Linked DNA regions of Homo sapiens. The protein of the gene in region 2 purifies or fractionates together with the protein of the main gene of each other region. This does not show direct contact. Each region holds a gene or a part of one and is shown on either strand. Other genes may lie near its edges.

Region 1 (4,015 bases), on a different chromosome or scaffold from region 2:
AAACCGAATTTTGGCTCCAGCCACTACTCGTGTGAACTTGGGCAAGATGCCTTTCTGTATCTTGGATTCCTCATACATAAATACCTACCAGACTGGGTTAATCATCAAGATTAAATTAGTGAACACACGAAAAATACCTAGAACACTGCCTGGCATAGTTCAAGGCTCAATTAAAGGTAGACACTATTATGCCAAAAAAACAAAAAACAACAAAAAAAGTGACGGTAGGATGGCTTCGTGAGGATTTTTGCTCATTTCTACCACTTTCTCAACTGACTTTTCTTAATGGTTGGCGGGACACCAACCATTGGTGGATGTTTACACTTGTGACTGTCTCACAGACAACTCAACATGTCCAAAGCTAAACCCATCATCTTTCCCCCTCCCGTCTTCCCTCTTACCCAGATAAAGGCACTAACATCTTCCCAGTCACTTGTCTAATCCTTGCTTCCTTCCTGTCCCTCATGCCCCAATTCCTATTTAACGGCCTAAACAGATCTTGAATTAATCTTTCCTGCGTTTCCACGCCCACTTAGAGTCCCTCATCTCTGGCCCTATTTTCTCAATGCCCTCCCATCCTCTACTCCAGATCCCCTCAAGTCCATCCTCGATGCGTGACTCTTAACTTCACGCCATCCAGGTCCCCTATGGAGCCGCTCCGACTAACGGACGCGCAGGTCCAGCGGACCTGCTCATCACTGTCCAGGGTGGCCTGCGGGAGACCCCCGGGGCCCTGGCCCTGCTGCCGCGGCCCCGGCACTTCCCCTCGAGGGTTCGCGGGGAACAAGGCCGCGCGGCCCCGGCTCTCCCGGAGTGCACGGTCCCGCGCTCATGCGGCTAGAGGGAGGCACCCGCAGGACTGCCCAGCCGCCTCTGCTCCTCAGGTCCAGCTCGGGCCCCGCCTGCTCTTACGCCGACTAACCGGCCGCGGCCCGATGGCGGCCCTGCCGCAGACAGCAAAGGTCACGGGGCTCCCCCGGAAGTGAAAGTGCGGGGATCCGCCGGCCCAGGAGACGCGGCTTCTAGCGCCCGGTTCCCGGGAAGCTCTGTGACGCGCTAAGCCCCGCCCCCACCCGTCACCTGACCCAGCGCAGCCTCGCCTCCCCGCTGGGGGCTCGGCGGCCCTCTGAAGCGGGTGGATTGGCTGGGGTGCTTCGCTCAGCCAATCCGGACGCGCCCGGGCGTCGCGGCCCCGCCTCCTCCCCGGCGCTCTGGGCCCGTAGCGCTCCGCGGGAAGGAGGCTGGATGCCCGGCAGCAGTGGGGCGGGGATGGAGGCGGCCGTGGCGCCGGGGAGGGATGCGCCGGCACCCGCGGCGAGTCAGCCCAGCGGCTGCGGGAAACACAACTCGCCGGAGAGGTGCGCGCCTTTAGGGCAGGGCTGGGGAGCGGCCGGCGCCTGTCGCCGATTGTCCCGCGCGGGAGGACGAAGGGGGCTCCCGGCCTGTGGCCGCTCTCGCGTGGGGCGTCCCGCGCGGGGATGTCCGCGAGGTCGGCCTAAGTCAGGGATGCGAGCTTCAAGGAGGAGCGGGTGCGAGCTGTGGCCCCGCAAGGGCCCACGGAGAGGTGACTTTGGGGCCGAAACCCGAGTGACTTCCAGGGGTGAGGTTTGCAGGTTCTGGGGAAGCAGAGCCTGCCAGGAAGAGGGCACAGCAGATGCGAAGGGCAGGGGACTTGCCGGAGGTGAACCGGCAGAGCCCCTGAGCCCGGGAAGAACTTTGGGGTTCATTCGGAGCCTTATGGGGCCTCGGAAGTTGATCACGGGGCGATGCAATTTAAGTGTTTTGAAGGAGTCCTTCTGGCTGCTTCCTAGAAAGTAGGGGCGCGGGTAGGCATGGGACGAGAGGAAGCCGGGAAGCCAGTTGGGGATCTTGTAACAACCTAGGAGAGAGATGTGGTGTGCGCCCAGAAACGGATGCGTTGGTAGGAAGCTGGTGCACTGGGGCAGGTGAAAGGGAATCAAGGGTTCTCCCAGACTGCTGGCCCAGCTGCAGGAAACGGGATGGCCACCGCTGAGAAGCGCGGAGACCCGAAGCACGTGGTATCCATACTAGTTAAGTCCGAGAAGAGCAGGAGGCAGGGGTATGCATTTTCTGGTTTGTGTGTCTTCTTTCCAGACCCCTCTTTTTCCTTTTTGTGAGCTCATTCGCTACCCATGCTTAGAATATGAGGGGGTCCAGGCCTAAAGCACACACATTTGGCATTCTACCTTGGTTGGAACAAAGTGAAGGGATCTGGGAAAATATCCCCTAGGGAATCAGTGGAGCGAGATTCCCAAGATTTTTTATTTTTTGGTTATGAAGCTAACAAAGTTGAGCCTGCTCATCCAATACTGATAGCATTTTAAGGAAGCAGCAAATAATGAAGCAAAGGAATGTGTAAAGTATTAATCTGAACAAAATAGATTTGTTCAGCCCAGCAGCAGATTGAAGAGCTACAGTCGCTCAACAAACACTAGCTAGCCTAAGGTACTTTGGATGCTTATTTATAGGAAAGAAAAACAGATATAAGGGCACATGCAAAGTCAAGCCGGGCTGGGGGATTCCTAGGACTATTAATACTAGTACCAGAGTGGTAAAGGATGGCGAGTCAAACTTGTCAAAGCCTTGTACCTATTGAGTGATTTTTTTTTTTTTTTTTAATTGAGATGGAGTCTCACTCTGTCACCCAGGCTGGAGTGCAGTGGTGCAGTCTTGGCTCACTGCAACATCCACTGCCCGGGTTCAAACGATTCTCCTGTCTCAGCCTCCCAAGTAGCTGGGATTACAGGCACGTGCCACCACGTCCAGCTAATTTTATTGTATTTTTAGTAGAGATGGGGTTTCGCCGTGTTGGCCAGGCTGACCTTGAACTCCTGACCTCAGGTGATCTGCCCGCCTTGGCCTCCCAAAGTGCCGGGATTACAGGCGTGAGCCACAGGGCACAGCCTGTTGAGTGATTTTGAACAGAAAAGATGCTTCATTTCAACTAATGCACATTCTGTCCACACTCAGTGGCTTAACAGCCACAGTTAGTCATTGTATCTGGGTTTTCATGTGGATTGGTGTAAGCACTGTTTATTTAAAAACTAGATAAATTAATATCAGGCAGGACTACTACTACACATTTTTCTAAAGGCTTTCGAAGGTTTTGGATATTAGTAAAAAGATATACAGATAAATTTTACTTAGTGAGGGATCTTTCAGGGAATTTGTACTTTCTGTGGCATTTATTTTGTCATCTTATAAAAATCAGGCCCCTGTTGTGTGGCAACCATGGGCTTCAACATTGGTGACAGGGCAGTGAGAAAAACAGAGCCCCCATGCCCATGGAGCCATACTTCTGTTACTCTATTAAGGTAGACAGTAAGGGAACAAGTCTGGTATGTCAGATGATGATGCTGCCCAGAAAGGAAGGCGGGAAGGGGACCTGGAGGCTGGGGAGGTAGGGACATAGGTGGCTGCAGTTTTGTGGGTTTGTTTTTTTTGTTGTTGTTTTTTTTTTTTTTGAGACGGACTCTCACTCTGTTGCCCAGGCTAGAGTGCAGTGATATGATCTCGGCTCACAGCAACCTCTGCCTCCTGGGTTCAAGCAATTCTTCTGCCCCAGCCTCCCTAGTAGGGCTAATGTTTGCATTTTTAGTAGAGATGGAGTTTCACCATGTTGGCCAGGCTGGTCTCAAACTCCTAACCTCAAGTGATCCACCTGCCTTGACCTCCCAAAGTGCTGGGATTATAGGCGTGAGCCACCGCGCCCAGCCAGCTGTAGTTTTAAGCAGAGCTGCAGGGCAGGGGGTCTCACAAGAGGACTAAGTTGGAACAAAGACCTAAAAAAGTAAGGTGGGGGCAGGGCATGTAGTCTTTCTGGGCAAAGAAACTGAAAGTGCAAGGTCTGGGGCCAAAGTTCACCTGCCCCAGGGAGAAGCCCAGGTCACTAGGAGCCCCACAGGCCATCGCAAAAATGAGTGTGGGGAAATAAGGCGAACCTCTGATGAAGTTAAAACAGCAGACAGGAAAGTTCCCTTGGGGAATGTGCAGC
Region 2 (3,500 bases):
CCATGATGAACTCCTAAGATCCTAAGATAAGTTACTAACTGTTGGGAACAAAATAGAAGGTTTTTTTGTAATAGGAATGTAAGGGAGACTGGGCACGGTGGCTCATGCTTGTATTCCCCGCATTTTGGGAGGCCAGGGCGGGCACATCACTTGAGGCCAGGAGTTCAAGACCAGCCTGGCCAACATAGTGAAACCCGTCTACTAAAAACACAAAAACTAGCTTAGCATGGTGGTGTGCTCCTGTAATCCCAGCTACTCCGGTAGCTGAGGCATGAGCGTCGCTTGAACCTTGGAGGCAGAGGTTGCACTGAGCTGAGATCGTGCCACTGCACTCCAGCTTGGGCAACAGCGACTCTGTCTCAAAAAAACAATATAAGGAACCTTTTAGTCCTTGTACTATATTTTATCAAATCTAAGACATCTTTCAAAAGTGTATTGTTAATTACCATTAAAGGTGAAAAATAGGCTGCCAATTAAACTGTGCCATATCAATTAAGACATTATCTGAGGGTAGATGAAGTAATGACTAAAATTCTGCTGGAAACCCAGCAAAGTTTCTTTTACTGGCATTGTTTGGTAAAGAGGGCCCCCTTCATTAAACTTGAATATTGCAAGCAACACTCTGTGGCAGATGATCAAAACTGTCTGACACAATTTGAGCTTGCTATAGCAAGAAAGTCTAACCTATTCCGGTGTTCTCTCTCCCATGAGACAAGCCGTTATATAGACTTAAACAGTGTTCCACCTGTTGGCTAAAGCTGGGTTGAGTTAATGACTTTGTTCATGAGGGATGACAGGGATCCTTAGGGCCACCTCTCCCTAGTGGAGGCATCATCACTTCATCTTACTCTTTCTTAGCAGTTACAATACCCCTAATATTTTGTGTCACTCCATTCTTAGACTAACATTCTTACGTATGAAATACATGATGAATTTGATCTGTGAAGCCTCTTAGGTAGCATTGTGTGTGCTGTGTGGTTTTTCTGAGGGGATCCATAGGAAAATAAGGGCAGGGTTTTAAACGTTAATGATGGGCAATGAGGTAATGTAAGTTATGGGGTTAAATTTTTATTTCCCTTTTTTTCTGTAGAGAATAGTGACAGTGGTACAGGAAAGAAAGAAAAAGAAAAGAAAAACAGAAAGGGCAAAGACAAGGAAAATGGCTCCGTATCCAGCAGTGAGACACCACCACCACCACCACCACCAAATGAAATTAATCCTCCTCCACATACAATGGTGAGTGCAGGGTTGATGGCCTAGTGGGCACTAAAGTTGTGTAAAGTATATGGCATTTGGTTGAGGTGGGTGGAAATGTTGAAACTAGCCTTCAGTGTGTAATACACTAATATTGTGGATTCCAAGTACTGTTTGTTGTTTGAATTAAGGTGAACCCAATTTTGGATGGAGATGGACTTGATGCCATTAACTTGGCAAAATCTGAACCTTTTTGTTGTTGTTTTTAAGGCCTTTGATCAAGTAGCTCTGTTTTCATAAACAGGAAGAAGAGGAGGATGATGACTGGGGAGAAGATACAACTGAGGAAGCTCAAAGGCGTCGAATGGATGAAATCAGTGACCATGCAAAAGTTCTGACACTCAGTGATGATTTGGAAAGAACAATTGAGGAGAGGGTCAATATCCTCTTTGATTTTGTTAAGGTAAAACATTTGCTTGGTCTGTAAATCAGCTTCAACCCAGCCTTGTTTGTGCCTTTAGATATATGATACTTTAGCAGTGTAATTAGGATTACTCTAATGCACGACTTTTTAGAACTCTTGTTCATTTAAATATTTTTTGCGCGTGATTCCAGGCACTATGTGTCACAACTGCCAAATTAGGCAGGAAAAATATGTTCATCAGAGCAGGGACTGGCTGGTGTCTTGAGCCTGGCAAAGTGTGCCTCCATTGCACTGAATTGTTTTCCTTTTCTTTGCAGAAAAAGAAAGAAGAGGGTGTTATTGATTCATCTGACAAAGAAATCGTTGCTGAAGCAGAAAGACTGGATGTAAAAGCCATGGGCCCTCTTGTTCTAACTGAAGTTCTTTTTAATGAGAAGATTAGAGAACAGATTAAGAAATACAGGCGCCATTTCCTACGAGTAAGCAAAGTGCTCTGGATTCATAAATGAGATTACAGTTGTGTGGCTTTCGAGATGGTCATATTAACCACTTTTGCTTGTCCTGTCATGCTTGAAAGTGGGGAAATTGACCCACCTTACAAGCCTCTGAGTATCTGAAAGTGCCATACCTAGGCCCTTACAAAGTAACAGGGATGTTTATGCATTGACCTTTTTGAACAACTATGGTATGGGCCATGCACTTGCAGACACTCTTATTTGGGTAATAGAGTTGTCAACTTAGAACACATAAAAAAGATTGTTAACACCAAGGTGTCTATTTGCAGTTTTGTCACAACAACAAAAAAGCCCAACGGTACCTTCTTCATGGTTTGGAGTGTGTGGTAGCAATGCATCAAGCTCAGCTTATCTCCAAGATTCCACATATCTTGAAGGAGATGTACGATGCAGACCTTTTAGAAGAAGAGGTCATCATCAGCTGGTCGGAAAAGGTGGGGAATACATAGGTGGGCTCTTAAAGTTCACAGGTTTTGGGGGGTTTTTTTGTTTGGTTGATTGTTTTTGGAGACGGAGTCTCATTCTGTTGTCCAGGCAGGAGTACAGTGGTATGATCTCAGCTCCCTGAAACCTCCACGTCCCGGCTTCAAGTGATTCTCCTGCCTCAGCCTCCCAAGTAGCTGGGATTACAGGCACCTGCGATCATGCCCAGCTAATTTTTGTATTTTTAGTAGATGGGGTTTTACCATGTTGGCCAGGTTGGTCTCGAACACCTGACCTCAGGTGATCCACTGGCCTCCCAAAGTGCTGAGGTTACAGGTGTGAGCTCCTGCGCCCAGCCGTTCACAAGTATTGAGACGGCTTTGAGATGAAGAAAAAATGTCTTAATATCTATAGCTAAAGTTCAGTGCCTGTGCTGTAGATTGTGATTCGCATCATGTCAGATTTGTAGTCATAACAGACTGCTGAGACTAACGTGTTCACTGAGTACATTGATTCTGTTTGAGGATTCAGACTTGTTAGGACCCAGTCCCCTCAGCTCAGTAAGGGGGATTGTATAAATAATCAAAAGTTGTTAAAATTCCTCAACTAAGAGACTTGTACTCACATTTTTTAGGCCTCTAAGAAATATGTCTCCAAAGAACTTGCCAAAGAGATTCGTGTCAAAGCAGAACCATTTATAAAATGGTTGAAGGAGGCAGAGGAAGAATCTTCTGGTGGCGAAGAAGAAGATGAAGATGAGAACATTGAGGTAAACATTGGGGGAGGAGGGTATTGGATACAGTGCTGGCATGGGTGTTTGAGATTTAAAAAGGTTTGTGAGGAGTGATATAATGGCAGTTTGGGGTAATTTCAGGTTTAGAATTTAAGATGCAGTAAAATACAGCCTCTCAATAATTTGGAAAATAATAGAAAGGGTGATGGAA
Region 3 (3,500 bases), on a different chromosome or scaffold from region 2:
TTTTTCTTTTTAAACTCTTATAGGGATGGATCGTGACTATGGCCATGGATCCTATGGGGGTCAGAGATCCATGGATTCCTACCTAAACCAGTCATATGGCATGGACAATCACAGTGGTGGTGGTGGGGGTAGCAGGTAAATTGCTTAATCATTTGGCCAAATAATTAGACAACTATAAGATTTTGGATATATTATTTTAAGTACTCTTTAGGCATGTTATGATACTTGAACTTCACTGTTTGCTATTGAATCATCACCTTAAATATTTAAAGGTGTTAATTAATGGGTATAAAATTTAAATCAGTATTACTGGCAGACGTTATTTTAGGAAAACACCAGATAACTATATCATGTCAATATAATAGAGTAAGATACACTTTTTAGCAGTGAACTTTTAAAAAATTCTTTTACTTTTAACTTCTTGTCAATCAAAGTATCCTGAAAAATGATATAAAAATGTTATTGAAAATATTATTTATGAAGCTTTTTCTTAATAATTAAAAAAAATCTTTTCTAATGTGGGGTGCTATGTAAATTAGCAAAGCAGTCTAACTAGAATGGATTTTACTGAACCAGTCTAACATTTACTTTCCAAGAAACATTCAGGACATATTCCTTTAATTCTAATTTTAAAGGAAGAGCATATTGCAATAATAAAAATATTTTTAAAATTATGTTCAGGTTATTTATTGACAGGTACTACTTACACCAAAGCACTTGTGCTCTAGGCTAGAAGCATTGTATTAAAGCCATGAATACTATACCTTTGACTAGTCGAGATTGTATTTATATTTTCCTGTTACTACTGTATAAAGCTTAAACCTACTTAAACAACTACAAGCTTTAAGGTTGACCATATTTCAGGAGAAGGGGTGTCTACTTTTTGAGGCACAAAGGTTCCTGCTGAATATAAGTAAAACTAGTTAGTAGACATGTGAAACAGTCATCCTTCTGCATAAATTGAAGGATCCGGATTCCTTAATGATGGACTGAATGATGCTTACTTTCCTTCTTTCTGCTTCCAGTGTACCACTATGGTTTATAGTAAAGAAAAATTAAGAAAGTGAACAGTTGCAACTATTTTGCTTATGTGATAGATGTTTTGAAAAATGTAGTTGGAAATAGGAATAATTTTTATATGGTTACTAGGATTCAGAAGTAAATCTATTTAGTGATCTGTAAATAATTGAAGTAATGTAACACTTAATGTTTTAATATGTCAGTTATTGCCCTTTTATATTGTGAATGTAATGTGCATAAGCTATATCCGTAGATGTTATTGTTTTATCTCATGTGTAATTGTGGGCCTTTATAAAATTGTGTTGTAAGATATCAAGCAACTTTTGTAATCCATGCTTTGGGTTTGTGAGAAGGAAGATGATTTATTTCTTCTGTTAACTCTCTTAAAACCTCGAGGAGACTGTGTGCTCCCTTTTTTAGGGTAGTTTTATGTGATAATTTCCTGAAGGAAATAATTTTGCAAATAATTGAATATATTATAAGATGTATTCTTTCTCATCTGCCTTGAAAATTCATATGCAGAGGGTATATGTTGGTGATCTTTTATGTTTTATCTGTTTATCCTTCTAGATTTGTTAGATTTTCTAGTCTACAAGTAAAAAGTGATTGAGGATTGATTAATTGACCTTGGCTGAAGTTTGGCAGATTGTTAAATTTTTATAACCAGAGATAATTCCCCAAATTTTGACTCCTACAGACACAATGAAGCAGTTTGTGATATAGATTATTGGGAGTGCAAAAGGATCTCTCTGTGTCACAAATAACCTACATCTAAGTAGACTTCAATTTGTGTCCCTATTGAAAGCCAAAATATTGTAAATGTTTTGTAATTTTTAATATTAGGGATAGATTCAAAAAAGTTTGAATAGTTTGTGAACTTTAGCAAATGACCTTTTCCAAGACTAGGGCTGGGCTTAAATAATGACAGACAAATCTTTTCTTCTTCATAAAATAGAAAAGCTGCTAAGAAGCAGATTTTAAAGCTAAGTTTTACTAAACTCAATTCATATTTATAATCTGACTCAGATAGCTTTCTATCTGGTCTCACGTTGAACTGCCCAGCCCTAATCAAATGTGAACAAAAGTAGAACTGTGCAAACCAGTATGGTATAAATGAATTTTAGTTGATAAATGTCATCTGATAATTTGTCTTTTGAATTGTCTAACATTAGTAAGCTTACTTTTGTTTTTTCCCTCACTGTGCAACTTTTCCAGGTTTGGACCTTATGAGTCTTACGACTCCAGGTCTTCTCTGGGTGGGCGAGATCTGTACAGATCTGGCTATGGTTTTAATGAACCCGAACAAAGCCGCTTCGGAGGTAGTTATGGTGGTCGATTTGAGAGCTCCTACCGGAATAGCCTTGACTCTTTCGGAGGTAGAAACCAGGGCGGGTCTAGCTGGGAAGCACCTTACTCCCGTTCAAAATTGAGGCCTGGGTTTATGGAGGACAGAGGAAGAGAGAATTACTCTTCCTACAGCAGTTTTTCTTCACCCCATATGAAGCCTGCACCTGTAGGCTCTCGGGGGAGAGGAACGCCTGCTTATCCTGAAAGTACGTTTGGAAGCAGAAACTATGATGCTTTTGGAGGACCATCAACAGGCAGAGGCCGAGGCCGAGGAGTAAGTACAACAGAATCTTTTCAGATTCTTTTCACTAGTCACTCTTTTAAACCCTTTCAAGACCATCGTTTTCAACTAGAATAAACACTGTTCATCCCGGTGTATTTTGAAGCAAAAGCTGAGTCATAAACATAATTTTTAGGTTGACTGTAAAAGTTTTTCTAGCACCTCAGAAAATAAGTGGCAGTTTGAGATGATCATAAAGTTGTGCCAAATCTCCCTTTATTAAAAAGGTGAGGCTACTGGTTTGGTCTAAAAGGGGTTAAAAGGAGTTGCATTTTCCTTGTAAACACTAGCAGTTTTGCTGGTGGAATAGTTTGTGGATTATTGTGAAAGGTCACTGAACCCTTTTTGAGTTTTTGAGTAGGTTAAAGGTGCAATGTATGATAAAATGTTTATACTTTGTGGCTAAACTCTAGCAAGTAGAATTTCTTCAAAGCTCCATGTTTCACATTAAACACAGGAGACTAAAAGTTGATGATAGATCAGGATAGCTTAGCCATGTTTATGTGGTGAAGAAGTTGATGTGTATAATAGATTGTACAATGATTTGTGGTCAGTGTAATTTTGCTAACTCACGCTTACAATATGTCCAGTTGCTGGTTGTTTTATTTTCCCTCGTGTTACTAGTTTTACTCTTGAGAAATAATTTCCACCTGTACAGATATGTTTATGGTTTCTTCTTAGGAAGTAATATTTTGTAAATTATTGCTTAAATGAGTAAATATACTAGTCCACAGTTGTTTAAGTTTAGGGTACATAGTGTAAACATTATGCTTTATGTTCTTAGGTCACTTGATTGACATGAAAATTTACCTAGTAAGTGTATGCAGATTGTGGGGTTATTATATAGTTTGAT
Region 4 (3,500 bases), on a different chromosome or scaffold from region 2:
GGCATATGCAGAGCGTCACTTACAGCCGAACACAGCACTACTGCTTGCATGTTTAATGAGAATTGAGCAGTCTGGAAAACAAGTCACAAACTTGAGCTCTTGTTTGTTCATTTGTCTTGGTGCTGCTCCTTGTTCTTTGGAATAAATGCTTGTCACTTAGGAAGACTCAAGGTGGCCTATCGGTGAGTCCATGTTACTGGGGATGGTTGGCCCCTTCTTGAAGGCAGGGACAAAGAGCACAAGTTTGGCCACATGTAGTTCATTGCGTAAATAGTGATTTATTATTTCTCCACACTTGGGCCCTGGAGCCTCTGTGGCCCTGGCTCACGTACTGTTAGTCTAGAATGTATTCTTCATTTGCGCCGTGGTATGAGTTGCCTTCGTGCTTATTCTGACAGCTGTGGCTGATGACCTTGTGAAACACAGTGGCTGCCTTTGCCACACTGCACCCGTGCTTGTTAGTGGTTCTATGAGAACTGATCTTTAAGACCCCCCATTGCCAGTATTAGGCTGTGGTAAGTTTTTGGTGACTTCTTTTCTTAAATATTCTGTCAAAGTAACAATGTCTGCCGACAGCTCAGGTAGATGAAGGCATAGCTCATGTTTCATGCTTGGTTTGTATGTCTGCAGCTTTGCCAAATGCTTGAGATCTGATGAATTTTGAGACACGGGAAAGAATATAAATGAGAGGATTATGTAGTGGGGATTTACGTCATTTTTATGACTTAAAAGTTTTAATTTTTCAAAAGGTATTTTGTAAGTTTTAGGTAAAGGAAACATTTAACTATGGAAATTTACATAAATGTTGTATCATGCTACCACCAGTGCATTTTCCAGCCTGTGGCCAGGAAAGACAGAGCCTGCAGAGAAGAGAGGAGGAAATGGACAGTGTAAGAAGGATGCCAGTGAGGGGATTTTACTTCTGTACATAGCAGGGAAGGCTTTGGCAGCTTTCTGTGGCCAGAAGATAAGGGCGTTCCAGGGAAGGTTATTTTGACCTTTTCCCAAGATGGTTAACTGGCAGGGCATTTTGCTCCAGCTTTCATTTTCTTGGAAGTTTATTACTATTATTATTATTTTAAACAGGGGCATGAACATTTTATAGCTAGAAGAGACTGACAGGTTCATGGTGGGAAGGGAGGGAAGGCAGGAGGAAAGGAACCTTGTTCGCCTTTGGCTTGATAGTTTGAAGGTAGTGGTTTTTGATTACAAAACCTTTGCCTCAGGAGCGTGGCAGGAAGAGGGGGTAGATGAGCTAATGCTCAGAGAGGAGACAGCTGGATCCTGAGGTGGTTGTATTGTCTCTACCCCATTGGTTTGATGTGTGTCACTTAAAAAAAAATTAACATTCCAGAATAATACCTAAAGCATTGTATCCTTTTTTGCTCCTTCTGAATACATTAGAGCTACCTATAAATAAACTGTGTTTGAGAGTAGGAGCTATGATCTGAATTTTGAATTTTTTTTCTTGCATTTAGCTAACCAAGGGAATCCCAATGTAGATTCAAATGTCATTGTGGTCCTGGGCTTGTCTAGCTTCACCTTCACCCCAGTCTGAGGCACAGTCTTAAGAAATCCTTCAGTCCTCACCCCTGGGGTGGGTGGAGACAGCTGGCGTCCCTTGGGGATTTAGAAAACTCATACCTTAACTGATAAGCTAGGGTTGTAACCTTATGCCAGTGACATCAATGTTCACAATAGGTGAATATGTTGTAAAAATAAGAGCCAATAAGTATTATTTCACAGCCTAAATTAAAAAGTCCCTGATCTGTTTTTCCAGGAACAATCTTGTCTTAGTGATTTGGTAAGGTCTTGGTAACATCTGGAAATCTACTTTATAAATCACTTTATGATTCACTTTCCTTATTCTGCATATTATGTTAACATAACAAGTTATGCAATGTTAGCATTCCTATAAATATATTTATAGGTTTCTAAAGGGATCTTAATTGTAAATATTTATCCTCATTAGAGGGTAAGTTTTTTAACATATGCTAAGTTTTAGAGTGTAGTGTTTAATATATGAGGGACATCAGAATAGCCTAATACATTTATTGATTGATTATATGAAGCCCATTTAATCCTTGAAATACCCCTATGATGTAGATACTATTTTTCTTGCTGTGTTACAGATAAGGAAATTGCATATGGAGATATTTACCTAAGTTCATGTAATCGAAATTAGTGAAATTGAGATTTGCACTCAGATTCTAATGCCTACTGAGGCTTGTGCTATAAAGGGGATCTTTGTAACCTGGGGGAGTCACATCACAGACCTCTGTTGTAAGTGAGTTGACATTGGAGCCAGGCCTTACTATAGCTGTGGTCATCGGATTTCCTCAGAAACACTTGGGAGTGAAATAACGATGCCCCAGGTCCCCTTCCAGACTTTCTCCCAAACAGATCATGCCTATTTTGTGACTCTAATTGACTACCAAATTTTTTAAACATCGCATTTACAGTTTCAAATTTTAATTATTCCAAATCCCTATAGTAATTTGCTATGGGCTGGGTGATGTGAAAAGTCTTTTGAGTATGAAATCTAAGGTCAAATCCCAGCTATGACAATTCTTAAGAAAGTAGACAAAATATTTATACTTGAATCTGATCTCTTAAACTCTTGCTTGAGGAAGCCATTGGCTATGATCAACTTTTTATATTTAAATATATATATATTTGTATATGTATCATGTGCAAATGTGTGTGTAGGACTATGTGTAGGCATATAGATATACGAAGGTGTGTGGATACATATATTTATATGTGATTTGTTTATATTCCTTAAATATGCATAGATCTGTAATTGCTATGCTTTTACTCCTGGTGACATTTGGTCCAGTCCACTTTTAATTTGCTGAGGCAGGACTGGCTGTCTTACAGTTGCAACATGTAAATGTTTGGCTACTGGCGATATTTTTTAATTACCTTAAAGATTTTGGTTTAAGAGAACTTCATGAGTCAAAGTAAGAAATTTCCGAAATTTAGAGAGTTGTATGATTTTAACAGCCTGTTGGAATTCATGTGGATTTGGGGTGAGGATTTGGGAGGATTGGTTGGACATGATTAAAGTTTTTCAGTATGTTTTTGGTAGCCACAAAAGTTCCTTTCTGTTTGTAAGGTATAGACGTTATTCCCCCAAATATCATAGCATAGGGAGGCCATTAAAAAAAAAAAACTAACTTTTTATTTTAGAATAGCTTTAGATTTACAATAAAGTTGTAAAGATAGTACAGAGAGTTCCTATATTCCTGTACCCAGATTCCCTATTGTTTTTGTTTGTTTGTTTGTTTGTTTGTTTGTGAGACAGGGTCTTGCTCTGTTGCCCAGGCTGGACTGTAGCCTCGACCTCCCGTTCTCAGAGGATCTTCCCACCTCAGCCTCCTGAGGAGCTGGGCCACCAAGCTCAGCTAATCAAAAAAAAAAAAAAAAAAAAAAAAAAAAAAAATATATATATATATATGGTTGGGTTGGGTGTAGTGGTTCACACCTGTAATCCCAGC

The links. The genes of interacting proteins can lie anywhere in the genome.
Region 1: the proteins of EIF5 (region 2) and SCLY fractionate together in Homo sapiens (co-fractionation; one large-scale study listed by BioGRID). This does not show direct contact.
Region 3: the proteins of EIF5 (region 2) and ZNF326 fractionate together in Homo sapiens (co-fractionation; one large-scale study listed by BioGRID). This does not show direct contact.
Region 4: the proteins of EIF5 (region 2) and ISOC1 fractionate together in Homo sapiens (co-fractionation; one large-scale study listed by BioGRID). This does not show direct contact.

What each region holds. Positions count from the first base shown.
Region 1 is NC_000002.12:238,059,786-238,063,800, forward strand, and holds the start of SCLY (selenocysteine lyase), read left to right. Parts: upstream 1-1,215; 5' UTR 1,216-1,269; coding exon 1,270-1,358; intron 1,359-4,015. UniProt on the Homo sapiens protein: Catalyzes the decomposition of L-selenocysteine to L-alanine and elemental selenium.
Region 2 is NC_000014.9:103,337,237-103,340,736, forward strand, and holds part of EIF5 (eukaryotic translation initiation factor 5), read left to right. Parts: intron 1-612; exon of another isoform or gene 613-738; intron 739-1,090; coding exon 1,091-1,236; intron 1,237-1,498; coding exon 1,499-1,657; intron 1,658-1,935; coding exon 1,936-2,097; intron 2,098-2,402; coding exon 2,403-2,567; intron 2,568-3,190; coding exon 3,191-3,325; intron 3,326-3,500.
Region 3 is NC_000001.11:90,005,110-90,008,609, forward strand, and holds part of ZNF326 (DBIRD complex subunit ZNF326), read left to right. Parts: intron 1-23; coding exon 24-135; coding exon of another isoform or gene 136-139; exon of another isoform or gene 140-1,336; intron 1,337-2,235; coding exon 2,236-2,641; intron 2,642-3,500. UniProt on the Homo sapiens protein: Core component of the DBIRD complex, a multiprotein complex that acts at the interface between core mRNP particles and RNA polymerase II (RNAPII) and integrates transcript elongation with the regulation of alternative splicing: the DBIRD complex affects local transcript elongation rates and alternative splicing of a large set of exons embedded in (A + T)-rich DNA regions.
Region 4 is NC_000005.10:129,097,749-129,101,248, forward strand, and holds part of ISOC1 (isochorismatase domain-containing protein 1), read left to right. Parts: exon of another isoform or gene 1-18; intron 19-3,500.